Linked DNA regions of Homo sapiens. The protein of the gene in region 4 purifies or fractionates together with the protein of the main gene of each other region. This does not show direct contact. Each region holds a gene or a part of one and is shown on either strand. Other genes may lie near its edges.

What was found.
Region 1: the proteins of RPIA (region 4) and TIFAB purify together in Homo sapiens (tandem affinity purification; one large-scale study listed by IntAct). This does not show direct contact.
Region 2: the proteins of RPIA (region 4) and SLC19A3 fractionate together in Homo sapiens (co-fractionation; one large-scale study listed by BioGRID). This does not show direct contact.
Region 3: the proteins of RPIA (region 4) and MMAB purify together in Homo sapiens (affinity purification with mass spectrometry; one large-scale study listed by BioGRID and IntAct). This does not show direct contact.
Region 5: the proteins of RPIA (region 4) and RPE fractionate together in Homo sapiens (co-fractionation; one large-scale study listed by BioGRID). This does not show direct contact.
Region 6: the proteins of RPIA (region 4) and IVNS1ABP purify together in Homo sapiens (affinity purification with mass spectrometry; one large-scale study listed by BioGRID and IntAct). This does not show direct contact.
Region 7: the proteins of RPIA (region 4) and GMPS fractionate together in Homo sapiens (co-fractionation; one large-scale study listed by BioGRID). This does not show direct contact.

Annotation. Positions count from the first base shown.
Region 1 is NC_000005.10:135,443,726-135,447,453, reverse strand, and holds the end of TIFAB (TRAF-interacting protein with FHA domain-containing protein B), read left to right. Parts: 3' UTR 1-345; coding exon of another isoform or gene 346-1,080; 3' UTR 1,081-3,228; downstream 3,229-3,728. Other genes in the region: DCANP1 (dendritic cell nuclear protein 1), read left to right, coding at 346-1,080. UniProt on the Homo sapiens protein: Inhibits TIFA-mediated TRAF6 activation possibly by inducing a conformational change in TIFA.
Region 2 is NC_000002.12:227,687,029-227,690,528, reverse strand, and holds part of SLC19A3 (thiamine transporter 2), read left to right. Parts: intron 1-2,221; coding exon 2,222-2,363; intron 2,364-2,955; coding exon 2,956-3,132; 3' UTR 3,133-3,500. UniProt on the Homo sapiens protein: Mediates high affinity thiamine uptake, probably via a proton anti-port mechanism. Has no folate transport activity. Mediates H(+)-dependent pyridoxine transport.
Region 3 is NC_000012.12:109,563,505-109,567,004, reverse strand, and holds part of MMAB (corrinoid adenosyltransferase MMAB precursor), read left to right. Parts: intron 1-1,828; coding exon 1,829-1,886; intron 1,887-3,500. UniProt on the Homo sapiens protein: Converts cob(I)alamin to adenosylcobalamin (adenosylcob(III)alamin), a coenzyme for methylmalonyl-CoA mutase, therefore participates in the final step of the vitamin B12 conversion.
Region 4 is NC_000002.12:88,747,173-88,750,672, forward strand, and holds part of RPIA (ribose-5-phosphate isomerase), read left to right. Parts: intron 1-2,808; coding exon 2,809-2,906; 3' UTR 2,907-3,500. UniProt on the Homo sapiens protein: Catalyzes the reversible conversion of ribose-5-phosphate to ribulose 5-phosphate and participates in the first step of the non-oxidative branch of the pentose phosphate pathway.
Region 5 is NC_000002.12:210,005,638-210,009,137, forward strand, and holds part of RPE (ribulose-phosphate 3-epimerase), read left to right. Parts: intron 1-3,500. UniProt on the Homo sapiens protein: Catalyzes the reversible epimerization of D-ribulose 5-phosphate to D-xylulose 5-phosphate.
Region 6 is NC_000001.11:185,307,244-185,310,743, reverse strand, and holds part of IVNS1ABP (influenza virus NS1A-binding protein), read left to right. Parts: intron 1-1,232; 5' UTR 1,233-1,250; coding exon 1,251-1,361; intron 1,362-1,571; coding exon 1,572-1,741; intron 1,742-1,868; coding exon 1,869-1,944; intron 1,945-3,081; coding exon 3,082-3,255; intron 3,256-3,500. UniProt on the Homo sapiens protein: Involved in many cell functions, including pre-mRNA splicing, the aryl hydrocarbon receptor (AHR) pathway, F-actin organization and protein ubiquitination.
Region 7 is NC_000003.12:155,869,408-155,873,449, forward strand, and holds the start of GMPS (GMP synthase [glutamine-hydrolyzing]), read left to right. Parts: upstream 1-1,242; 5' UTR 1,243-1,463; coding exon 1,464-1,490; intron 1,491-4,042. UniProt on the Homo sapiens protein: Catalyzes the conversion of xanthine monophosphate (XMP) to GMP in the presence of glutamine and ATP through an adenyl-XMP intermediate.

The DNA.
Region 1 (3,728 bases), on a different chromosome or scaffold from region 4:
CCAGCACACACTTAATAAGGGTTAGCTACTATCATGAGACCTGAGAGAGGAGGGCTCACCATCCACACGGAGCTAAGGAAGACTCACACCCCAGTAAGCTGGCTCCAGAACCCAAGGGCTTACCTGTGCTCTGTGATTCCCCAACTAGGGATTTAGTTGTAGCCACGGACCTGGTAGGCAACAGGGAGGGGATTTTAATCTGCTCCTTGCATCAGAAGGTCCAATAGGCAGGGTTAGTATAATGGGAGATGCCCTGGTAGGGCTGGCAAGGAGAAGAAGCCACATGTATTTTGGTCTGATGAAAAGCAGCAGTGATCTGTCACTGACCAAAATGGTCCCCCAACTATGCATTACGGAGCAGCAACCCACATACAGAACTCGAGAAGCCACGGCCTGGAGACTGTACCTGGACACCAAAGACTGGAGAGAGGAGCTGGTGGGGAAACCCCAGAGTTCCCAGGGTGCCACTCCCCAGCTCCACCAGAGAACTTTGGGAATGAGCTGCTGCCCCTGAGTGCCCCTCTCCAGGGCCTCAGTGAGGGTCTCTACCCTCCAGGGAGGAACAAAACCTTGCCAGCTGGGGTCCTGCGAGAGGGGGCAGTTCAATTCCTCCACAGGGGACTCTGCAACTCCAATCTTTCGAGTGAAGCATCTGCGAGGCCCTCAGGGACCCAGGATGAACTGCATAGCAGCAGAAGGAAGACAGGCCAGACCAGGCGGGAGGGAGCCCGGAAACATCTGGTTTGTAGTTTCAGACTCTACCCGTTCACAGTTCACACAGTCTCACCGGGAAACTCACACCTTGCCCTGTACCAAGTTTTTAAGGCAGTTAAGCTCTGCCCATCCGAGACTTCATTTTTCTTGAGTAGAAAATCACTGAAATCATCAGATCCATGGCACCCACCTTCACTTTCTCCTAACAGCTGGAACCGTCAGGCTGGCTTCAGGGCCTGGTCTTCGCACTTGATATCACTATCCCTCACCTGCTCAGACAGCCAGAGCAGGCGGGTGAGTTCCTCCCAACAACCTCCACTGCATTCTCTCAGCTCCCACCGCAGGGCAGCCCACGTGCCTGAGTGAACATGTGTGCGTGTGCACACACGCAAGTATGCACAGACATACACTAAACACGAACATACAGTGCACATGAACGCTGCTCCCAGCTAGGGCCCTCTGGTCAGACTGCTGCCTGGGTTAGAATTCTTGTCCCCACCCCCACTTACTATAGTTCTGTGATCCTGGACAAGTAACTGAATCTCTCCGTGCCACAGTTTCTTCTTGTAGAAAACGGGAAAGTTCACAGTACTTACCTCCTTAGAGTCATTGTGAAGGTCAGTTTGAGGCATCACAAATTTAAGGCACCCAGACATAAGGGTCAACAGGGTTAGCTATCACTGTCCAGTTTGGTGGGAGGAACTGAATGCATGTAGGCACATGGACCCAGTCTACACTCAGGCACAAAAGGAGCTACATTAGTTACATTCAGGCATACCCCAGAGCACTACAATTCTCTGAGACATTGTCTGGAAATCTAGAAATCATCTCCTTGCCCTTTAAGGTATTTTAACCCTCGCATTCCTCTGCTTTTCCAAGAATGTGAATCTTGCCAAGCTGTCCGTGAGAGACACGGGCTCCCCTCGAGGGAGACTTGCAAATGCTCCATAAACAGCCACAGTGTGGGGCTCTGCCATGAGGAAGTCACAGCAGACACGCTAGACAGCATAGTCCTGGATGCAACCTGGAGGAAGGGAGGCCCATGGTGGAGCACTCACTCCGTGCCTGTCTGCCCGGTGAGACCTCAAGTTCCTTGCAGACAAAGGCCATGGGTTGTTGGCTCTTGTGTTCCCGGTGGCCTTTCCAGAGCTGAACAGAGGACAGATGCACAGACGGGGGGGCTCTGGTGGTCAAGGCAGCAGTCCCCTTGGATACTAAAGTCTGAGCCAGGCCCCTCAGGCCCGGCATGGGCAGTGCGAGGCCCATAGTGGTGGGAAGCCAGTTGGCCAGCTGGGGTGAGAAGGCCGCGAAGCCATGGGCAGACAGGAAGTGGAGGTGAATGTCTCTGCCTCCTGTAGGCCTCAGCAGGGACAGCACAGACCCTCTGGCTGGGGCAGCGCAGACCCTCTAGCTGGGGCAGAACAAGGCTGGTGCTTCCTTCTAGTCCTTGAGACTTTGTAGCTCTAACTCAAGCAGAACCCTGGGGTTTTGGGATTCTGTGTGGTGACTGCTGAGGAAGGTTTATGGATTTGACAGGGTGCATGTCACAGAGAGACAGTTCTCAGTCAGCACTTCCTGTCCCCTGCAGAGGCTCATAGGGGACAGCCCCTGCCAAGGAGACCCTGGAGGGGCTCTGAGGATAGCAATCAGAGGTTGGGCTGGCTGGACTGAGCCCAGGCCTGTTGCCCACCAAGTCTCCATAGGTTCTAGTCTGACCCCTCTCTCCACCCCTGGGCTATGCAGGCCAGCCCGTGCAGACCACCCCCGACGCGTCCACTTGCAACACCCGCCTCACTGTGCCAACACTCCATCCACACAGGAAAGGACTGAGAACGTGATGCTTAACCCAAAGGAGTGAGTTTCATAGGATGGGTGGCTTTAACAGTTTCACAGCAGGACACTGAGGGAATATTTCCCTATCCCTTCAAATGGACGGTCACTACAGAAACGTGTAGAGCAAGACTTTGTCAAGGGGCTGTTTCCAGGTCTCCCGGTGTCTAAATAGCAGAGCTGGAATGGGAACTGAGAACCGATTCTTTCCACAACCGCCCACTGAGCAGCAAGGCTGCAGCCAGCAAAGAGGTGCGGAGGCAAGCAAGCTCCATGTGGTGGGGACAGCGCATTGCGACCTCCACCACCCCTGCAGTGGGCTGCCAGCTGAGCCACCTGTCTTCCACTGTATCTACTGTACGAACTTCTCCAGCTCTGCTCTGTTTTCTCTTCCTCAGCATCCACCCCGTGACACGTAGTGGTGGCTGATGTCGCCACAGTACCATGAGGTTAACAGGTCCTCCCTCCAGCTTCCCTCATGGTGGCAGCCTAACCTGCATTGCAGCCGTTCACCGGACACCGCACCAGACCCTCAAAACCCATCCAAGACTGTGGGAGGAGTAAACAACCCAGCCCAGTTAAGAGGAGATGCCGAATTTAATGAACCCTATTTGAATTGCAGGGCTGTGATTCCTCTTACCTTTAACGTGAACTCACAGGCGGATTAAAGTGAAATAAAACCTACCATTTGAGTTACATTCTCAGCTGATTGGAAACATGCATTGCCTCCCCATGACCGGGCCGTGAGAAGGGAAGTTATTATCTTTCTTTAGAGTTTGTAAACTCTTTATGGCTGAGGCAGCTTTAATCCTGCTGGGGAAAAAAAAGGATCCGGGAATCAATTGCTCCTATTTACCTTTGTTTTCCAATCACATGCTCCAGTGGGAATAAAACATCCTAAGTGAGGGGATGTGGGGAGCCAGGTGATCCCTGACAGAAGAGTTTGATTATTTTCTTCTCTAGGCATGTGAATTGAAGGAACTTTAGAGTTCTATTTGGCAAGGGGTCTCATTTCACAAAAATGTGCACCCCAGTAAGGATATCAGCACTCCTGGGCCATTACTGGTTCCTCTGCCTTTTCTTTCCAGAGGAAATGCCCTCCATTCCCCAACCATGCCCACTTCTTTAAGGGGTGCTGGCAGCAAAGGGCCCAGCTCCAGGCATTTGGCCAGGAAGGAGTCCGA
Region 2 (3,500 bases), about 140 Mb from region 4:
TCATCGTGTTAGCCAGGATGGCCTTGATCTCCTGACCTCATGATCTGCCCACCTCGGCCTCCCAAAGTGCTGGGATTACAGGCATGAGCCACCGCGCCTGGCCGTATTTACAATTTTTATATTCTCTTGCTGAATTGACCCTTTTATCATTGTTTAATGACCTGTGTCTCTTACAGTTTCTGTCTTGAAATGTATTTTCTCTGCTATATGTATAGCTACAAGTCCTCTTTTTTTGTTTGTTTCCATTGGCATGGCATATCTTTGTCCATCCCTTCATTTTCAGTCTATGTATGTCTCTATAGGTAAAATGTCTTTCTTGTAGGCAACAGGTCATTGGGTCTTTTTAAAAATCCATTCAACCACTCTCTTTTGAAGAGTTTAGATTGATAAGTAAGGACTTACTCCTGTTATTTTGTTATTTCTTTTCTGGTTTTGCAGTGTTTTTCCTTTTCTTTCTTCCTTTTAGTGAAGGTGATTTTCTCTGGTGATATAATTTAATTTCTTTTTTACTTTTTGGGTATCCATTGCATGTTTTTCAATTTGAGATTACCATGAGGCTTGCAATACTATCTTATAACCCATTATTTTAAGCTGATAACAACTTAAGACTATTTGCATAAACAAACAAGCAAAAAGAAAACTAATAAAAACTCTACAGTGTAGCTTTGTCCTCCTGCTTTTTAACTTTTTGTTGTTTCTCTTTATATCTTATTGTACTATTTGTCTTGAAAATTTGTAGTTACTATTTTTGATTGGTTCATCTTTTAGTCTTTCTACTTATGAGAGTAGTTTACATACCCCAGTTACAGTGTGATAATATTCTGTGTTGTTCTATGTACCTATTATTACAAGTGAGTTTTGTGCCTTTACATGTTTTCTTATTGCGCATGAACGTCCTTTTCTTAGAGATGGAAGTACTCCCTTCAGCATTTCTTGTAGGACAGGTCTGGTGTTGATGAAATCCCTCAGCTTCTATTTGTCTGGGATGGTCTTTATTTCTCCTTCGGGTTTGATATTTTCACTGGATATACTATTCTAGGGTAAAAGTTTTTCTCCTTCAGCACTTTAAATATGTCATGCCACTCCCTGGTTCTAAAATTTCTACTGAAAAGACTGCTGCCAGACATTGGAGCTCTCTTGTATGTTATTTATTTCCTTTCTCTTGCTCCTTTTAGAATCCTTTCTTTATCCTTAACCTTTGGGAGTTTGATTATTAAATACCTCTAAGTAGTCTTCTTTGGGTTAAATCTGCTTGGTGTTCTGTAACCTTGTCCTTGGATATTGATCTCTTTAGGTTTGGGAAGCTCTCTGATATTATCCCTTTGAATAAACTTTCTACCTCTATCTATTTCTTTACCTCCTCTTTAAGGCCAATAACTTAGATTTTCCTTTTTGAGGCTGTTTTCTAGGTATTGTAGGTGTGCCTCATTCTTCTTTTTTCTGTTGTCTCCTGACTGTATTTTTAAATAGCTTGTCTTCAAGCTTGCTAATTATTTCTTCTGCTTGATCAGTTCTGCTGGTATGAGATTCTGATGCATTCTCAGTATGTCAATTGCATTTTTCAACCACAGCATTTCTGCTTGATTCTTTTTAATTATTTCAATCTCTTTATTAAATTTATCTGACAGAATTCTGAATTCCTTCTTTGTGTTATCTTGAATTTCTTTGCGTTTTCTTAACACAGCTATTTTGAATTCTGTGTCTAAAAGGTCGTATATGTTTCTCCAGGATTGGTCCCTGGTGCCTTATTTAGTTTGTTTGGTGAGAACGTTTTCCTGGATGATCTTGATGCTTATGGATGTTCATCAGTGTCAGGGTATTGAAGAGTTGTATTTATTGTAGTCTTTGCTGTCTGGGCTTTTTTGTACCTGTCCTCCGTGGGAAGGCTTTCCAGGTATTCAGAAGGATTTGGGTGTTGTGATCTAAACTGTATCTACATTAGGGAGCACCCCAAGCCCAGTAACACTGTGGTTCTAGCAGACTCTTAGAGCTACTGCTTTGGTGGTCTTGGATAAGATCCAGAAGAATTCTCTGGATTACCAGACAGAGACACTTGTTCTTTTCCTTTACTTTCTTCCAGACAGTCTCTCTCTCTCTTTGCTGGACTACCTGGAGCTGGAGGTGGGTGACACAAATACCCCTGTGGCCAATATGTTCTATCTTTTTAAGACTTCCATCCATGTATATTATAGTTAAAATGCTTATTTATGTTTAATGATAGATTTCAGATTGCAGTTAATCTGAATGTGGAACGCTATGCCTTGGTATTTGGAATCAACACCTTTATTGCCTTGGTGATTCAGACCATCATGACTGTGATTGTAGTAGATCAGAGAGGGCTCAACTTGCCAGTCAGCATTCAGGTAAGCTGCAATACTTCTGTTTTCAACTAGGTAACCTCAAAAATTTCTCAACCTTACAACAAGCAATATTTAAATTTCTTGAGTTCCTTGGTTAAGCAATTAAAAAATACATAATTCCTTCATTATCATATTATAACACACCAAGTAGGTTTTGAGCAATAATTGCAACTAGGACAACATTTACATGGATAAGGCAGGTAAGAAGTAACCTCAATGCTTAAATTTATTCTTGGAGACATTGAATGTAGCATTGCACCAGCCTCCAAACAAAGACATAGAGACAGGTCAATGAGTTTTAGTGTTTTTTTGGGTTTGTTTTGTTTTGTTTTTTACTATTGATGATAGTAACTATGATTTTAACCCAAGCAACCTGCTCTAAAGCCAAGACTCTTAGTCACCGTATTGCTTACACCTTCTTACTTGATCTTGATTTCTTACTTGATAGGAGAGTATTGTTCAACCTAAATGACCCATATTAAAAACCTGGGTCTCAGTTACCCCATAATCCAAGCAAACCAACAGTATTAGGATGTATTATCATTGACATAGATGGTCATATTTTATATGTGGCTAATTATTTGTTTTTCTCCAGTTTTTAGTTTATGGGAGCTATTTTGCAGTAATTGCTGGAATTTTCCTAATGAGAAGCATGTATATTACCTACTCAACCAAATCCCAGAAGGATGTACAGAGCCCTGCTCCAAGTGAGAATCCAGATGTGTCTCACCCAGAGGAAGAGAGTAATATCATCATGTCAACAAAACTCTAACCTCATCGCAACAAACGCAACAGTGGCTTTCAAAGTTATGCAATAATAAGGAAAGATTTTGAGATGGGTGGCATATGTTTTGCCATAACTTGACATGCTTTGCAAATCTGGATTCCAATGGACCTTTCAAAACCACAACAAAACCTCAGTTTTAGATGAGTTCTCTATGTGACCAATTTTACTGGATGCAATTGACAGGACCCGTCATCATAATTAAACAACCCATATTGGGGACCCCCTGTGACTAGTAGCAGCTGGAAAATTCTGGTTTTTATCACTTGTAAAGACATGCAGATGGCGTGGAACCAAACCATGAGAAAACTCCAGCCATCCTGGAGTTGATATTCACCATTTGTGAGGAGAAATAC
Region 3 (3,500 bases), on a different chromosome or scaffold from region 4:
TTTTCGGGACAGATAATGGGAGGTACAGATAGTCAGCCAGCCGGGTAGAGAAGGCAAACAAACCCCTTGGTGTGTGTGGGAGGGGGTCCAGAAGAGGGCAGACACAAGACCAAGTGGGCAAAGGGAGAAAAGGCCAGTTCTCGCATCAGCTATTCTAATGAGCTCTAAAACACGAGCCATCGTCTCTCAGTTGAGGAGGAGCGGGAGGTTGGAGAAACCTCAGTTGTGGATTCTTCCTTGGTCAGATATTGACCAAGCATCTGCAGTGCGAGGCGCTGCTCAACAGAGAACCTCAGCCCCGCCTTCCTGAGCTGCAGAGTGCAGGGAGCAGAACCTCAGCCCCACCTTCCTGAGCTGCAGAGTGCAGGGAGCAGGCAGCACTCACTGGGCAGCTACGAGGGTGGGAGCAGGCTTGGGGCAAGTGCCCAGGGTGGGGCCTGCCACTGGCCTGGTCACGGGGCATCCCTCGGCAAGCAGGTACTTCTGCACACCTCCTGTGAGGCAGGCATGGGGCATCCGCTATGATGGAGACAGACTGTGTCCCAGCCTGCACAGCCCTCCCTTTGGTCCAGAGGGGAAGACACACCAGACGGGAATCACATACTGGTGTGTTTAGTTCTAACTGTAAGATGTGCCAGGAAGATGGGCTGGATATTCTCCATTGGCCCTTTCAAATCCCTTCTCTTCACCTTCTCTTTATGCATGGGAGGCTGACCTTATCACCTGGTGGCTGTGCCACCTCGATTCGTTGGTCTTCTGGCATTCAGGTGGGTCCAGCCAGTGGGAGGCACCAGTAGGTGATAGGAGAGTGAGTGCAGAGAGCTCATGAGTGTGTGTGACCCTGTTCCCCAGTGGTGCATGGCTCTGGTGGCAGCTGGGCTCCCTACCTAACTCCCTCCCTGCTGAGTGACTCCAGAATTCAGCTCCCTCCAGGGTGAGTTGTACCTTCCCCGACCCTTGCCCTTCAGGCTCCTGCATTTCCCTGAAACTCTGCCCATACCTCTGTGAATTGTCCCTTCCCAAAGCCCTCCTCCAGGAATCCCTGCAGCGCGCCACTGTCTCCTGCTGGGGCACTGACTGGTGCAGGAGGGAAGTGCAGGGTTCTGAGGGAGGCAGAGCCAGGGTCCTGACCTGTGTCGGGGGGCAGTTTGCTTTCTCTGCCTTATGAGGGAAGTCCTCCCCAGCCTTCAAAGTCTCCCCTCCAGCATCACCTCCTCCAGGAAGCCCTCCCTGCCTCTCTAGCCAAGGTCAGATTAGGCTTCTATTGCTCTTTCCTTCAGAGCACTGATCTCAGTTTGCACCTTCACATTCAGGAGTATGTCTAATCTGATTACCTATCACACTCCTGAATATCACGCTCCTGAACATGAAGGTGTAAGCTTTGCCTGAAGTCCCAGAGACACTCAGCAGCGGTGCAGAATTTGCACCTGGGTCTGTCTGGTTCCCACTCACCTATCACCACAGGGCTGCGGGTCAGAGCTCAGGATCCAGCACTTGAGACTGTCACTGCTCACCCTGTCACCAACTTGCTGGAGAGAGCCTGGGTCAGCTTCTGTTCACCACTGACTCTCCTGGGCCTGGCCAGAGTAGCTGTTCAAAAGGAATTCTTGACTGGAAATAATGAGCATCCGAAAAGGCATTTCAAGAAACAAATACCACCGCCCCCAAATGGAAGGCTATAATGTTCTTATTGTTAGCAAGAAAAATAACATGGCTATTATAGCTAAATTAACTAAATGGCCTGCCACCTGAGAATCTATTGTTTATGGCAAGACAGGGCCTAGGGACATTACATTACAGGCAAATTCTTTTTCCTTTTTCTTCATAGGTTTGCTCTGGAATTAGTCACAGAAAAGGGCCATACATTTGCCGAAGAGCTTCAGAAAGTGAGTAACACCATCTCACCCAAGCTGGGAATCTTCAGCCCCGGTGGCCATCACGGGACTCAGCATCCAGCCACCAGTTACTCTTTGTGTCACCTGGGGCTAGTTACTCTCCCTCTGTGAGCTCCATTTCTTCATCTGTAAAATGCGGACAGGCCAGGTATGGTGGCTCACACCTGCAATCTCAGCTACTTGGGAGACTGAGGCAGGAAGATCACTTGAGGCCAGGAGCCTAGGTAACATAATAAGACCCTGACTCTACAAAATATTTGAAAATTAGCCAGGCATAGTGGTGAATGCCTGTAGCCTTAGCTACTCAGGAAACTGAGGTAGGAGGATCTCTTGAGCCCAGGAGGTCAAGGCTGCAGTGAGCTGTGATCATGCCACTGCACTCCTGCCTGGGCAAGAGATTGAGACCCTGTCTCAGGCCGAGCACCATGGTTCAATTAAGCCTGTAATCCCAGCACTTTGGGCGGCCAAGGTGGGAGCATCACTTCAAGCCAGGAGTTCAAGACCAGCCTGGGCAACTTAGGGAGACCCTGTCTCTACAAAAAAAAAAAAAAATTAAAAATTAGCCAAGTATGGTGGCATGCACCCATAGTCCCAGCAACTTACAAGGCTGAGGTGGGAGAATCGCTTGAGTCTTACAGGTTGAGGCTGCAGTGAGATGTGATTACACCACTGCACTGTAGCCTGGGCAACAGAGTGGGATCCTGTCTTTAAAAAAAAAAAAAAAAAAAAACCTCTGTCTCCAAAACAAACAACTGGAGACATATAATCTTCCTTCACAGGCGAGTGGGGAGGATTGTACTAAATGAGGGAATTTAAAATGCAACGGTTCTCAACCCAGGGCCATTCTGCCCCTCAGGGCCCGCTGAGCAATATCTGGAGACATTTTTGGTTGCCACATCTGGGTGTTGGGGGTGTTGCTGGCATGTAAATATCCTGCAATGCAGGGGACAGCCCCCGTCAACGAAGAATGACCCGGCCTTGAATGGCAATAGCACCGAGGCTGAGAAAGCCGGTGTGAAGTGCCTCGCTCATGCCCGATGCAGAGGGAACCTGGGAAGCCTAGCTGCAGTGAGCCCTCAGCCCGTGGGACTCATGCGTCACAGTGTCACTGTTCTGTTCCCTAAGAAGGAGGGGGCCTCTGACCCACGCAGAGAACTTCAAGCACGGAGACAGGGTCACCACCCCAGAATGCCCAGGGTGCCGCACTTTCCACCTCCACATGGACCCAGGTCCCCAGAAACCGCTCCCCGCAGGGTCAGCCCTTCCCACTTCCGTTCTGAAGCCCAGGCTGGAGCCTGCTCAGGCCCCTGGGAACAGACGGAGGGTAGTAGGTGGGGCTGCCACAGGCTGTGGCTGCAGGAGGAAGCCTCAGCTGCCAGAACATTCTGTGTGGTGGAGGAAGGCTTTCAACCTCCTGAGGAGCCGCGGTAGCAGCGGTCATTTCTGTCTGCTGTACGCGTTGGGTCGCAGCTGTCACGTCACCTCCTCAAGGGCCTTCCCTGGCCACCTAATCTCCAGCTGGGTTAGGCACTGCTCCTGGATTTCCACATCCTCTAACCACAGGCATCACAAGGGGTGTTAACCTGTTCACCCATCCACCTCCCA
Region 4 (3,500 bases):
GTTCCCAGGGGGATTATGGCTGCCTCTTCTGCGTCATACAGGCTGCCAGGGAAGTAGGAGAAAGCCGGCAGTGACAGACCCCCACCCAGCTGCCACACAGCCAGCAAGGCCAGTTTCACTCCCGCCATGCCCCACCATGGTGAGCAGGGCTGAGATCTTGCCCCAGACTACAGGCCTCCCTACTGAGAAAGCAAGCAGGCCTCTCAGGCCTCGCCCCTCCCTGCCTGCCTGCACCTTCGGCTGTGGGTTCTTCATTTGTATCTGCACTTCCCATTTGTCCCCCACCGGATTCTGCTCAGGAAAATTTGTGCTCAGTTGAAATTATTACGAAGTTCAGCTAGAAGCTTCCTTCATCCTGTGGCCCCTCCCCAGTTCTGCTGGCTGCCTTTTTTTCCCGAAGGACCCCTGTGAGATAAAGCCAGGGATGGCTTCCCTGGGCTCAAGCTGGGGACTGGAAGTGTCTACAGGGCTCTTCCTGCTGCTGCTTCTACTTTTATAGTTTGCTCAGCTCTCTAAATCCATTTCAGCTCTAGGTAAGATTAAATCCGTCTCCTGTGATCTGGATTTTTCAGGTTCCCCGGTGGGGATGTATGTTCAGAGGCAGACTTTTCCCCCTCTCACACTTTGGGAACTCACAGTTTTTTGGCTGTCTTATGGAGTTTGCAGCAGCAAGCCACTTCTTTCAAAGGGTCTGTGAATTCTTTTGGTTTTCCTGGTATGTTCCTGTGGTGGTTCTTGGAGCAAAAGTTCACAATGTGTGTCTCCACACACTGTTCTGTCTGTCCAAGTGGGTGCTGCACATTAATCCTGTCTTCTATTGCCATTTTCCTGCAAGTTTTCATTGTATTTATCCTTTTGAATTTGTGTAGTTTAAAATTATGAGTTAAACAGTGGCAAGTCCTCTTTGCCACTTTTCCAACCAACTAGTTACCCTATCTGGAGGCAGCCAGTGTTACCAAAATTGTGTGGCCTTTGAGATAGACTTTCATAAACACACAAATTGCAACTCCTCCCGCCCCACCCCTTTTTACACTAGCGGTAGCCTGCTTTATACATGTTCTGTTTCCTGCCTTGCCTGTCTTGGAGATTATTACACATTGGCTTATAAAAGAGCTTCCTTGTTCCTTTTTTTTCTGAATACCTGCATGTATTCCACTTTACCTATGTAACATTATGACTTAACTGGATCACCACTAGTGGTCATTTATGTTTGCAGATTTTTGCTAGCAGGGAATCACTGGATGAAAGGATTAATGTGTCTGTGATTTTTGTTAGATGGTTTCAGATTGCCGTCTGTAGCTTGTATTCACTTAGCCTTCTACCAACAGTGTGTGCAGGTATCTGTTTCCCTGCATACCTGGTCCATTATACCTTTTCTCTTACAGTTAAAGTGTTATGTCATTGAAGTATGTGTGAGTATATGTAAATATTCTTGGTAAAGGTTGTGTGTAGTTGTTAATTTTCACTGCTGAATCATATTCCATCATCTGTATGTGTGTGAAAAAAAGTTTATATCTATTCTACTCTTTTAGTTTTTTCTCTTTCTTTCTTTTTTTGGAGACAGGATCTTGCTCTGTCACCCAGGCTGTAGTACAGTGGCATAATCATGGCTCACTGCAACCTCTGCTCCTGGGCTCAGGCGATTCTCCCACCTCAGCCTCCTGAGTAGCTGGGACTGCAGGCATGTGCCAGCATGCTTGGCTAATTTTTGTATTTTTTGTAGAGCTGCCATCTCTATGTTATGTTTCCCAGGCTGGTCTCGAACTCCTGGGCTCCATCAGCTCCATCTGGAGCTCCATTGAACTCCTGGGCTTCATTCCCAAAGTGCTGGGATTATAGGCATGAGCCACCATACCCAGCCTCTATTCTACTCTTGATGGACATTTGGGTATTATCAGTTTTTAGCTAATAGGAAAAGTGCCACTATCAACATCTTACACATGTCTTTTGATGACCAAATGTATGCCTAACAGTTGTATATCTAGGAGTAGAATTGCTGAGTGGTTAGGTGTGAATCCATCAGCTTGGAAGATGAACATTTCCAAAGTGCTTTTGCCAGCTCAGCTTTCACCATCAATGCGTATGAGTGTCTTTGCATCCCAGCAGAATTTCATTACACTGACTTCAGTGTGTGTGTAGTGATATCTTGTAATATTAATTTGTATTTCCTTTCAGTGAATGATTTTGAGCATCTTTTAAAATGTTTATTGGCCATTTTGGGTAGCTTCTTTTGTGAGGTACTTCTTCAAGTCTTTTGCCCATTTTTCTATGGGGATTCTGTCTTTTTCTTGATGATTTATAAATTGTTTATATTTTTGATATGAGTCCTTTGTCAGGTATATGCTTTGCAAATATCTCCTCCCATTCCGAGGAAATCTTTCAAGGCTGGTGGTATGATTGAAAATAACTGGTAGTGGGGCTCCTTGGCTGGAGTAGTCATGGAGGGTCTCTAGAGGATGACTTGCCATCTGATATGTCTGAAGGACAGAGCTGAGCCAGCCCCTTGAAGTGCTTGACAATGACTGGCTCAGGCAGAGGGAACAGCATGAACAAAGGCCTCAGGGCAGGACAAAGCTTAGCATGTTTGGGTACAGAAAGAAGGCCAAAGTGGGAGGGGAGAAAGAGGTGGCAAGAAGAAATTAAGATAATCAGAATCTCTTTTCATTGCTCTGTGGGAGAAAAAGGCTTTAGATTTGTCATTCGTCCAATGCTGTGTATGACAGTTGCTTCTAGTGACCCTGCAGTCTTTGAGTCTCTTTTTGCTTTGGGAGGCTGAAACAATGTTTCTTTCTGTCCTTTGTCCTGCAGGTGTGGTGGACACAGGCCTATTCATCAACATGGCTGAGAGAGTCTACTTTGGGATGCAGGATGGCTCAGTGAACATGAGGGAGAAGCCTTTCTGTTGACCCTGCAAGGAGCAGAGTGTGTTCACCTTGAGTCTCCAGCCCACAGCCAAGGTGGACGTACCTCTCCAGGAGCCTTTGCCTTAATGTATCTCTGCCTGGACAACTTGTGGTGGGGGGTGGGGGGAAGAGTGGGAGGGGGAGTTAAATCCAGTCTTATGAAGTATTGTTATTAAATGTCTTTTTAAAAAGAGAAATATAAACATATATTTTTACTATTAAAATATTCAGTTTTTTAAATGAAGTAGAACTTGAGTTCATGTTTTATATGAAATATTTACCAAAAAAAAAAAATGAGGTAAACTGTATTTAAAACCTTTGACTTGAGTCTGCTGGTAAAGCTTCTGAATATTGAGTTTGCTGAGAAATAAAAATCAAAACTTCTTTAAGCTGGTAAAGTGAGGGGCCCACCAGCAGTGATCTCCTGATGCCTTACTGGAAACTTTGTTTACTTGTCTGCTACCCTCTGATTTGTTTTTAGTTAGTTTTTATTGTGAGCACACATAGTACCTAGTTACATCTTAAGATCAGGTTTATAAAACTGTGGAGTGGAGCGGTATGGTATGGAATGACTTGGAATGTAAGCTGTCAGGGAGA
Region 5 (3,500 bases), about 120 Mb from region 4:
AAAAAACAGTTCAAAGACTTGCTAGCACTGGGCCCTCAGTCTTACCAGGTGACATGCGCTGGAGCTGACAGGGGCAGCCTCACCTTTAGTCATGTGGGGTGTACTTCATTTGGCCCCTTTCCCTATCTGCTCTGTTTTGCTCTTTGATGTTACCTAACTCTCAGCAGCATTGAGTTTGTGATTCCTGATTCACAGGAAGATTGTGTTCTAGTTACAGTCCTGTACCTTTTATAGCAACTCTAATCCTCCTCTTACCATCTTTGCCTTGTTGGGAGATAGGGTAAATGGCTTGATCTGTCTGCAGTAGATTGTGTTAGAATTACGTAAGTAAAGCTTAGGAGTGATGATGGAACATGAGAGAGAAAATTGTATCCTTGTATTACAAAAAATTATAGTGTAATTCCAGTAAGTCCCTGGAAGAAAGGGATACCTTTTTATTTTATTTTATTTCTTTCACACTTAACTAACTCCAGGAAATAACTTAAAGGAAAAAGAGGCAGAATAAGATAATGATGAAGCAGACTTTTTAGTGAAGTTTCTCTCTGTTAAGTGAAATAATTAAGTGTTTTCCAAGCTGGTCTGTTAACTCCCTCTGGCATTTGTTCAAAATTCAGATTCCCGGTCCTCTTTGGAGTCAGTAGGCTGAGGTAGAGACTGTAAATACATTAGAACTGCTCTCATGGTTACTGTTTGGCAAATTTGGGACACCCTGACTTCGTGCTTAGGATTGTAGCCCCTTTTTGTTATGGCTTAGCGTAGCCTTTGGGTTTTTTTTTGAGACTACTGATGCATTCTTGTTCTTCCAATATACTTCGTGAACCTAGTGCATTGAATTGATTTTCAAAAGCACAAATTAAGTCACGTAACTTTGGGGTTAGTATTTTTATACGTTTTGTTTAGGTTTTCCCAAAAAAGTAAAAGTGTATTTTTTTTGGTTCTTTTATTTACTCGGGAGGTGGTTATTATACTTTTATTTTCATAATAAATGAAACCTACTGTTAAGACAACGAAACTATTTCCCAGACTACACAGCAAATTAAAAGAACAGTATGTGAAATTCAGATCTTTAATTCCAGAATTGTAAAACATTCAATAGGCCTTACTGCCTGCTTCTGTGACCCTTATTTCAAGTTCTAAGTAAACACATGCATCTTATCCACAGCCCTGACAATCATTGCTCAGGCAAATGTTAGAATCACTTTTTTAATGATAGAAATTAAACCTCCAAAGACCAAGGTGTTATTGAGTGAAAGTGTCTGTTCCCATCCACCTTATGTGTCCCTCTCAGATGTGTCCTGAATCCTTACCTCTCTCTCTTGAATCTCTTCTCCGCTAGACTTTTTCCCCTTGTTTGTTTCGTTTGTTGTCATTATAGGGACAGATGAGCATAGTAGTTAAGAGTCTGGACTTTGTAGCCATAGTGCCTATGTTTAATTCCTGCCTCCAGCACTTACTGGTTGTGTGACCTTGGGCCTCTGTTCCTCATCTGTAAAATACAGTTAATAAAAGTACCTACCTCATAGGGTTGTTGTGAGGTTTTAATGATTTAATATACAGAAAGTCTTTAGAACTGTGTGTGGCCCACATATAAGTTTGGTTTTTATTAGCACTCATTCTACCTGTCATCTAACTGTGAGACCTTAAACATAGTTTGTATTTTAACTCCCCTCCCACACACCTAATCATTTAACAGATCCAATCAGTTTTGCCTGTCTTGTCATTCTTAGTGTTCCTTGCCACTTACCAAGTGGCAATTGCAGTCACCTACCCTCTTGTAATTTATTTCCCATCCTATCTTATTTATTAATATTTCTCACTTTAAGATCTTACTTCATATTTACAGCAGGACAAAAGTCCAGACACTGAGCTTGGCATTTGACACCTTTAATGTGATACTACCAACCTCCCATCTTTTTTTTACACTAGCCAAAGTTGGTCAATACCACTCTCCACGTCTTTGACTGTAACTTGCTTATTTCTGCTTTTGCTTCATTTTCAGCCTTTGTTTCTTTTCCCATCTTTATAAATCCTATTTTGTAAATCTCATGAACTTCTTTCTTAACGTTCTCTAATACTTGCTCTTATTTTATGTATGTTTTATCTATAATCACGTTACCTGCCTGTTATTGTATAGCTTTTCTTGTAATCCTCATATAGGATAATACCTGCTGCTTTAACAAAGCCCAGATTTCAGTAGCTTAGCATTCTAGTTTCTCATTCATAAAAGAGTTCAGTGTGAGTGTTATTCCATTCTGTGGCTCTTCCATTCTGTAAGGGCTTTGTTGGCAGAAGGGTAAAGTGGCAATAGGAAAGGAATTCTCCTTAACCTTCTGAGCTCTGCAGTGACACACTACTTGCACTCACAGTCTGGTGGTGAGAGTCACATGAGCCACTTGGATGTAAAGGGAACTGGGAACTGGGATGTAAAGTCACATGGGCCACTTGAATATAAAGGGAACTGGGAATGAAAAGGTTTGACTGAGTTGACATCCCACTGACAACTATACGATAGCAGTAGGGTTGTGAATTCTGGTGAGTCATTCATTAGCTGTCAATCTCTGTCATAGGAACTGTAGCGTATTTCCTTTACAAAACAGTATTCTGAAGCACCTAGTATGGTACTTGCATATAGGGGATTTTTTTTGTTTGTTTTTGTTTTTTTTTTTTTTTTTTTTTGAGATGGAGTCTTGCTCTGTTGCCCAGGCTGGAGTGCAGTGGCGTGATCTCAGCTCACTACAGTCTCCACCTCCTGGGTACAAGCGATCTTCCTGCCTCAGCCTCCTGAGTATCTGGGATTATAGACGCACGCCACCACACCCAGCTAATTTTTATATTTTTAGTAGAGACGGAGTTTCACCATGTTGGCCAGGCTGGTCTTGAACACCTGCCCTTGTGATCTGCCACCTTGTTCTCCCAAAGTGCTGGGATTACAGGTGTGAGCCACCATGCCCGGCCCCGGTTTTGTTAAAGATTTAAGTGAACTAGTGATAGAACAAAAAGATTAACTGGAGTAGGGTAAAGGATAAGTACCGTGGGTCTGGTAGACTTGATTTGTTTTTGTTTTTGTTTTCGTTTTTGAGGTAAGTCTCGCTTTGTCGCCCAGGCTGGAATACAGTGGCACGATCTTGGCTCACTGCACCCTCCACCTCCCAGATTCAAACGATTCTCCTGCCTCAGCCTGCCTAGAAGCTGGGATTACAGGTGCATGCCACCACTCCCAGCTAATTTTTGTATTTTTAGTAGAGACAGGGTTTCACTATGTTGGCCAGGCTGGTCTTGAACTCCTGACCTCAAGTGATCTGCCCGCCTCAGCCTCCCAAAGTATTGGGGTTACAGGCGTGAGCCACTGTGCCTGGCTGGTAGACTTAATTTGAATCCACTTCCACAAATTATTAACTGAGTTACTTAAGGATTTTATTTATCTTGTGCTCTTCAAAGGGGATAATAATAGCATCTACTTTGTAAGGCTGTCGTGAAGATGAAATGAAGTAAATTACGAT
Region 6 (3,500 bases), on a different chromosome or scaffold from region 4:
ACCACCATGACTGCCTAATTTTTACATTTTTTGTAGAGACAGGATTTCACTATGTTTCCCAGACTGGTCTCAAACTCCTGGGCTCAAGCAATCTTCTTGCCTTGGCCTCCCTATTACTGTTCTTTATTTTATTTTATTTTTTTAAGATGGAGTCTCTCTGTTGCCCAGGCTGGAGTACAGTGGCACAATCTCAGCTGACTGCAACCTTTGCCTCCCAAGCAATTCTCCTGCCTCAGCCCCCACAAGTAGCTGGGATTACAGGCGCCCGCCACCATGCCTGGCTAAATTTTGTATTTTTAGTAGAGATAGGGTTTCACCATGTTGGCCAGGCTGGTCTTGAACTCCTGACCTCAAATGATCCACCTGTCTCGGCCTCCCAAAGTGCTGGGATTACAGGTGTGAGCCATAGCGCCCAGCCTATCACTGTTTTTTAATTATGCATTTTGTGTAGTCATTAGTCAGTTGTTTATAAGTAATGGTAAAATGCAAAAAAGTTGTAAGTTCCCATTTATATTTATATAATCTGATGAGATAAGTGATTTAGAATATATGAAAGAAAGGAACAGAATATAAGTTCATCTTTTTAAATCACTGTATATGTTTCAAAACATTTATAAAAATAATTTCGTAGATACAGTGACAAGACTAATCAGACTTTTTAAGTTTGTGTACTAGGCAAGGGAGGAAGACATTAGGCAATTTTCTGCATATAAATCTTGATTATATATAATTTTGAAGACTAGAAGCAAATTGGGGGCCCTTTAAGACAACTGAAAAAGGCTAGGATTAGGATAAGTAACAGTTTTTCTCATTTGTGGGTAAAGGAATGACAGGAGCCCAAATCCAAGGAAACCTATATGTACTGGCTATTTCACCCTTTCAGGCTTTTAGATTACTTATTATATGGGTTTGGGCAGGATGGAGTTTCGTTTCCTTCCCTTCCCTTCCCTTCAGAATGAATTTGCTTAATGGGCATGGGAACCTGGCCAAAATTGTCGAGATAGCTGCTACTGTTTGAATCCTTTAAAAGTCTTATGACCAAAGTATTAGGGAACAAAGACTTGGACATTCAACACAGGTGTTGTTTCAGCTAAGTTTTTGTGTGATGAAATTTTTATGTGTTGTTTATAGGATGGAATTTGAGAATAAAGAGACTGTATTACTCTTTAGCATTATATTTTTAAAACCATCAGTTGCAAGTAAAATAACTCAGCTTTCTTTTCATCATCTAGCCAAATTTATAAGGAAAAATGATTCCCAATGGATATTTGATGTTTGAGGATGAAAATTTTATTGAGTCTTCTGTTGCCAAATTAAATGCCCTGAGGAAAAGTGGCCAGTTCTGTGATGTTCGACTTCAGGTATTTAAAACTTAATTCAAAATTTATAGAATTTTTTATTACTAAAAGCCATAAGTTCTTAGATTTGCTTATTTCTTTTTCATAGGCATTTAATGAAATGATTTTTTAAAAGAATACTGAGAAATGTAAGATAAAGGAATCTGATATAGTAATTAGCTAGAGAAGCACATAATCCACAATACTTATAATTATAATTCTTCATAATTTCAGGTCTGTGGCCATGAAATGTTAGCACACAGAGCAGTGCTAGCTTGCTGCAGTCCCTATTTATTTGAAATCTTTAATAGTGATAGTGATCCTCATGGAATTTCTCACGTTAAATTTGATGATCTCAATCCAGAAGCTGTTGAAGTCTTGTTGAATTATGCCTACACTGCTCAGTAAGTACATTTGAAGTAAACCATATAATTAGGGAATATCTTCAGAAAATTCCAAGTCTTGCTACATATATTTAAATTAAGTGTGTTTTAAGGCTTTGGTATCATAAGTAACTTTTTTTTTAAATAGGTTGAAAGCAGATAAGGAATTGGTAAAAGATGTTTATTCTGCAGCAAAAAAGCTGAAGATGGATCGAGTAAAGCAGGTAGAGTATCAGAAGTAAATAAAATCATTTATGGAGTCTTATTTTGTGTGATTGCAATGCTGAATTTGTCATAAAACATCTTGTTAGTTTCAAGGACTTGAACATGTCCCTTTTTTCCCTCAGAGTAGTCAATATGTTATTTTAACTGTTTGGCTATAATAATGTAGCAAGATCACACTTCTTCTCAGATAATTTGGGCTGAAGTCTGACCCTTTCAGCAATCTTCTCTGGTAGGGTGGCTATGTCAGCCTTTGATAGCATGAATTAAAATTAATATTTTTCTTAAGAGTTAATCACATAACTTATATCCTCAATTCTGTGTTCTCCTAAACTTCCTGTGCTCTCTAAAAGTATTCCTTCTAGAATTTAATGCCAGTAAAAAGTACTTTTGGAAAACAGGCATTTAATCCCCTAATGCATGGGGGTCAGTAAACTTAAGGCCTACTGGCCAGCTGCCTATTTTTATAAAGTTTTATTCAAACACAGCCATGTGTGTTCATTTACATATGGTCTACACTGCTTTCCAGCTACAGTGACGGAATTGAGCAGTTGTGACAAACAGAATGGCCTACAAGCCTAAAATGCTTTTACTATCTGGCCCTTTAAGAAAAAGTTTGATTTGCTAGCCCTTCTTCTAATACCACTCCTTTGTTCAAAAATCCTTCCTTAATTTACAGTACATATCCCTGCATTTAGTTTCTAGATTTTCCCTTATATAGTTGCTGTCTTTCCAAAACTATTTCCTAGTTATCTTTTCTCCAACCAAATTAAATTGTTTGCAGCATCTTCTCTACTTCTGTCTGCATTCAACATCAACATCATCTCTCCTGTAGAGCCCAGTTCAGATACTGCGTTTCATGAAGCCTTACCAAATTATTCTACTTGAAAATACTTATGTGAACTTACATAGCATTTCAATTTGTTGTACCTCTCCTTAAACTAAAACTTACATATCTGTATGGCATAATTAGATGTTTATCATTTGTATACGTGTTATTACCACTATTAACATTTGTTGTATTAAGACAGTGATTTTTGATTCTTTGTATCTTCACATAGTCTTTACCACACTGAACATTAAATATTTGTTGAATAAAAGATATGTAAGTGTTGGCACTCATATATTTCTTTTCCAAGGTTTGTGGTGATTATTTACTGTCTAGAATGGATGTTACCAGCTGCATCTCTTACCGAAATTTTGCAAGTTGTATGGGAGACTCCCGTTTGTTGAATAAGGTTGATGCTTATATTCAGGAGCATTTGTTACAAATTTCTGAAGAGGAGGAGTTTCTTAAGCTTCCAAGGCTAAAGGTAAGGAGTAAAGTCTATAAACAGATATATACTATCTAGTTCCAGGCGTGGAATCTTGGTCTGTGTTTCAAGCAAGTGAGTAATGATTATGAAATAATACATTGAAATTATATTGTTATTCTTAGCAGCGTAATGGGTTTCTCCCTACCAGTTTGTTTACTTTGTTTTTGATTCAGTAATCAAATTCCTTACAAATTCCTGGTTCCTTACAAATTCCTGGTTCCTTACAAATTAGAGTAAATGTA
Region 7 (4,042 bases), on a different chromosome or scaffold from region 4:
ATTGTGCATACAGACCTACCCAGAGAAGCCAGTATCCATGGCTTTGGAGAGTTCAAATATTCAATTTTCCGTTCAAAAAAAGGTAAGCGAAATACTTAAGTCTCAGGCCCACTAGGACCTTAAGCCTTTCGTTTTTGTAAATATTTCACTAATAAACTGTCTACACTTTCCCAGATTGGGCAGGCCTTACATTCTATATATACTGAGAGGCACATTATCTCACTAAGCCTCAATTTCCTCATTTGTAAAAAGGATAAGAACATCAATCCTACCTTACTACTTTCACGGGATTGGTTAAAGTTAGCTTTTAAAGTATTTTCTCACTCTGGCTCCTTAATACCCTAGCTACAGTCTGACACAAGAATGACTGCAGCAAAATGTTGGCTGTATTATAATAAAAATATTTGTGGAAAGGCTTTGTTAGCTGGAAGCCATCTCAAGTATTATTCTTTATACCCCAATCTCGATTTAGGCCTCTAGGTAACCAAATTCAAAGTAACACCTCATCATCATGATGGTTGCCAAGGGGTAGGTGGAGGGACTGCAGCCCCTTCCCCACAAACAATTCCAATAAAAACACTGTTGTGCAAACAGAGCTTCACGACCAGTTCCCTGGGCCAGCTGCTCACCAGATTACCACTCCCAAACTCCCTTTTCTTTGGAAATACTGCACCTGCTGTATTTGTGGGGAGCTGTATAACTTTTGAAGTATCTAAGTGATCAGTTCCTACAATGACATCCTTGAGATATGGCCACGGAACTTTCCAAAGCAGCCTTGGCCTCCTTCATGTCCAGCAACCTGAGATAAGGCCACGCCACCGGCTAAGAGTTCCGCCAGGGGCCCAGCTCTCAGGAGGCCTCTTCGGTGCCGCCAGCCTCCCGAAGTCATCCAAGGTAGCAGGCAAATCCGGCAGCAGCAAACTAGCTCGGATTCGGCTTCGGTTTTTCTCCTGGCCGGCGCCACAGGCCCCTCCTCCGGGGCGGGCTCCTCGGTGCGAGGGCAGGAGGGGCGGAGCCGGTGGATGCCGCGGGCTCCTCCTCCCAAGGGCGGGCCGCGGGAGACCCGGCCGGCTTTGCCGGCGGGGACCGGGCTGGGGGCGGGGCCGGGCGCCGCGAGCCCCTCCTCTCGAGGGCCGGCCGGTTTGGCGGCGGCTGCGGAGGGTATCTGAGGCTCGGCTGCCAAGCCGAACGGGCTCTGGCTCCTCCCAGTGGCCGGCCGGGGCGGAAGCAGGAGGCGGGGGCAGCGTGCGCGCTGCTGGTCTTCTCTCCCGCGGCGCTGGGGCCCGCGCTCCGCTGCTGTTGCTCCATTCGGCGCTTTTCTGGCGGCTGGCTCCTCTCCGCTGCCGGCTGCTCCTCGACCAGGCCTCCTTCTCAACCTCAGCCCGCGGCGCCGACCCTTCCGGCACCCTCCCGCCCCGTCTCGTACTGTCGCCGTCACCGCCGCGGCTCCGGCCCTGGCCCCGATGGCTCTGTGCAACGGAGACTCCAAGGTCAGCGTGGGGGTCCCTGCAGCACCGCATCCCGGCGGAGGCGAGGCTCCCGGACCGGGGAGCCACCCCGCGAGGCCCTTCCCCACCCCCTTCCCCCAGCCCGTCCGCGCAGCCCTGCGCCCCGGGCAGCCACGCGTCGTAGAGTCCCTGGTCGGGGCCTGTGGCATGTTTTATCTCGGGAGCGGCGATGCTTTGTTGATCTTGTCTGCGTGTCGAGGTCCGGGCGTCGGGGAGGGCATCAGCTCCCCGCGGCCGCGTCGCTGGCCCCCGCCTCCCCCGCGCCGCTGTGGGGCGCAGAGCCCGCGAGCGCGGCGCGAGGGTGGGGGTAGGGCGGCGAGCGGGCTTGTGTGTCTGCGTGTCGGGGTGGGGGCTTCCTCGGCTCCCACCCCGTCCCTCTGGGAGGCTGGGGGCCCGTTGTGGCGATCCCGGGGCCCGCCGAAGGCAGGGCAGGGTCGGGGCCTCCTGTGCGGCGTTGGAGCTGGGCCGGCCTCTGGTCTTCCCGCCACCCCGTTTCCCGCCTGCCCTCGGCGAGGCCCGCTCCATTCCCCCCGCCAGCCTTGGGCTCCGCGGCGGTTAGGCCGGTTCTGGACGAACCCCTCGGAGCTGCACTGTCTTCCCCCTCCCCCAACGCCCCTGCAGGCCCGCGTGAGGGCTGGTGGCCCCAGGGTCGCGCACTCCGTTCTCCCTCCCCGCTTCCTTCTCAGAGAGGAAAGGGTGTGTGTCCAGGTCCCGCCCCCGTCCAGCTTGCTCCCTGTCGAGCTTGCTGGTTTGCGGGGTAACCCGCTTCCCCGCCTTTGGGGTCCCTCCCCGGGACGCGAGCCGTGCCAGCTCGCCCGAGGCCTGGGCAGTCCGGAGTTCCGGAGTGCTGGAAAAGTTGCCGCCTTGACGTACCCGGCGGGGAGAGCACGTTTGACCGCTGCTGCTCATCTCTCCTCCAACTCACTTTTCTTAGACCGTTCCTCTTACTTTCGTCCCGCTTTTGAATTGGGCACCTTCGCTTTCACCTCTGTATTAAAATTTTCATTGGCCTGGAGTTCTTTCTGACCTTCACTAAGTCAGTTTTGCCAGCGGGAAACCGTGCAGTTTTGAATTGCGATTTACTTCATTAAGATACACCTCCTCTGTACGCTGTTGAGGGCCTAGCTTTAGGAAAAAACTTAATTAAATTTCATTCGGGGGGTGGGATTGTATACTTCGAGGTGGATTTGGTGCTCTACGTCAGATAGTAGTGCCTTGTTCAGGCAGAATTTTAACATTCTTTTTAAAAGGTGCTGCTCAAGGGTCACATCTTAGGAGGTCCTCTTGAATGGTTGCTTAGCACCCGGTAATCATTCAAAAAGTATTTGTCGAACAATGAGTAAAAGATTATAAGGTAGCTGATTTTAACTCTTTTAAACCAAGGCACCAGTGGTGCTTAGGTCCAGGGAGCTGTTAAGACACACAAACCTTTAGTTTCTGACCTAAGGAGCAAATGTAAACCCCATTGTCCAGCTCTTTCCCGATTACTAGTCGACTTGCAAAGCATTTTTCTGCCTAGTTTTGAGTCTTACAACTCATTGGAAAGATTCATCTTTATGCTGATAGATGAAATAACTGGTGTTAGAAGGACTGAAATTTAATTTATGGGCTTTGAAAAATATATAGTGCATTTGAGAGGAGTATTTTCACAAAACTAAGTGACAGAAAAGTATAAGATTTGTTTCCAGAGTATATAAGAGGATTTTTCTTTTTCCTAACTGGTATTTTTTCTTTGTTTTGCTCTAGTTGGAATGACAAAGATAATCTTATCAGTTTGCTATATTTGAGCCTAGGGTGAATTAATTTTATTTCAAGGTTCTTTATGTTTTATAGCATAATTAAACATTTTAAAAACTATGTTAACAATTAGTTGTGGACTGAATTGGAAGCATTTTCAAGAGGAACATCTGGAGAATTAATATATTTCATCAAATCTATGATTATTGTATGTACCCCTGAGGAAGAAAGTCCTGACAAACCATAACATGCCAGTGATCATAAACATTTTAAGTAAAGAGATATTAAATATGGGGAAATACCTTATATCACCTACTTTATTATGCATATTTCTAAGAGGCCCACCTGGAAATAAGTAGGAGTCTTATTTTCCATAGCCTACCACTGAACCACCTTTCCCTTGGGAGGAAAGGCTTACTTTGTACATTGATTGGGCCTTGGCTGTGTGTATCTTAGTTCATAAATTAAAAGTTGGGCAAGAGCTGGTTTTGATTCCTGTTTCTGGTACATTTCAGTTATCAGGATTTTCTAAAACGGCGTTTTTGCATGATAGAAACTGGAGAGGGGCCTAAAAGCTATGAAAGCATTTGGGTTATTTTAATTATTTTTTATACACAATATTTTATTTAATTTTTAATTTATATTATTTTTTTGAGACAGGATCTTGCTCTGTCACCCAAGCTGGAGTGCAGTGGTGTGATCACAGCTCACTGCTGCCTTGACTTCTTTAGCCTCCTGAGTAGCTGGAAGTACAGGCGTGGATCACCCCGCCCTGCTAATTTTTATTTTTTGTAGAG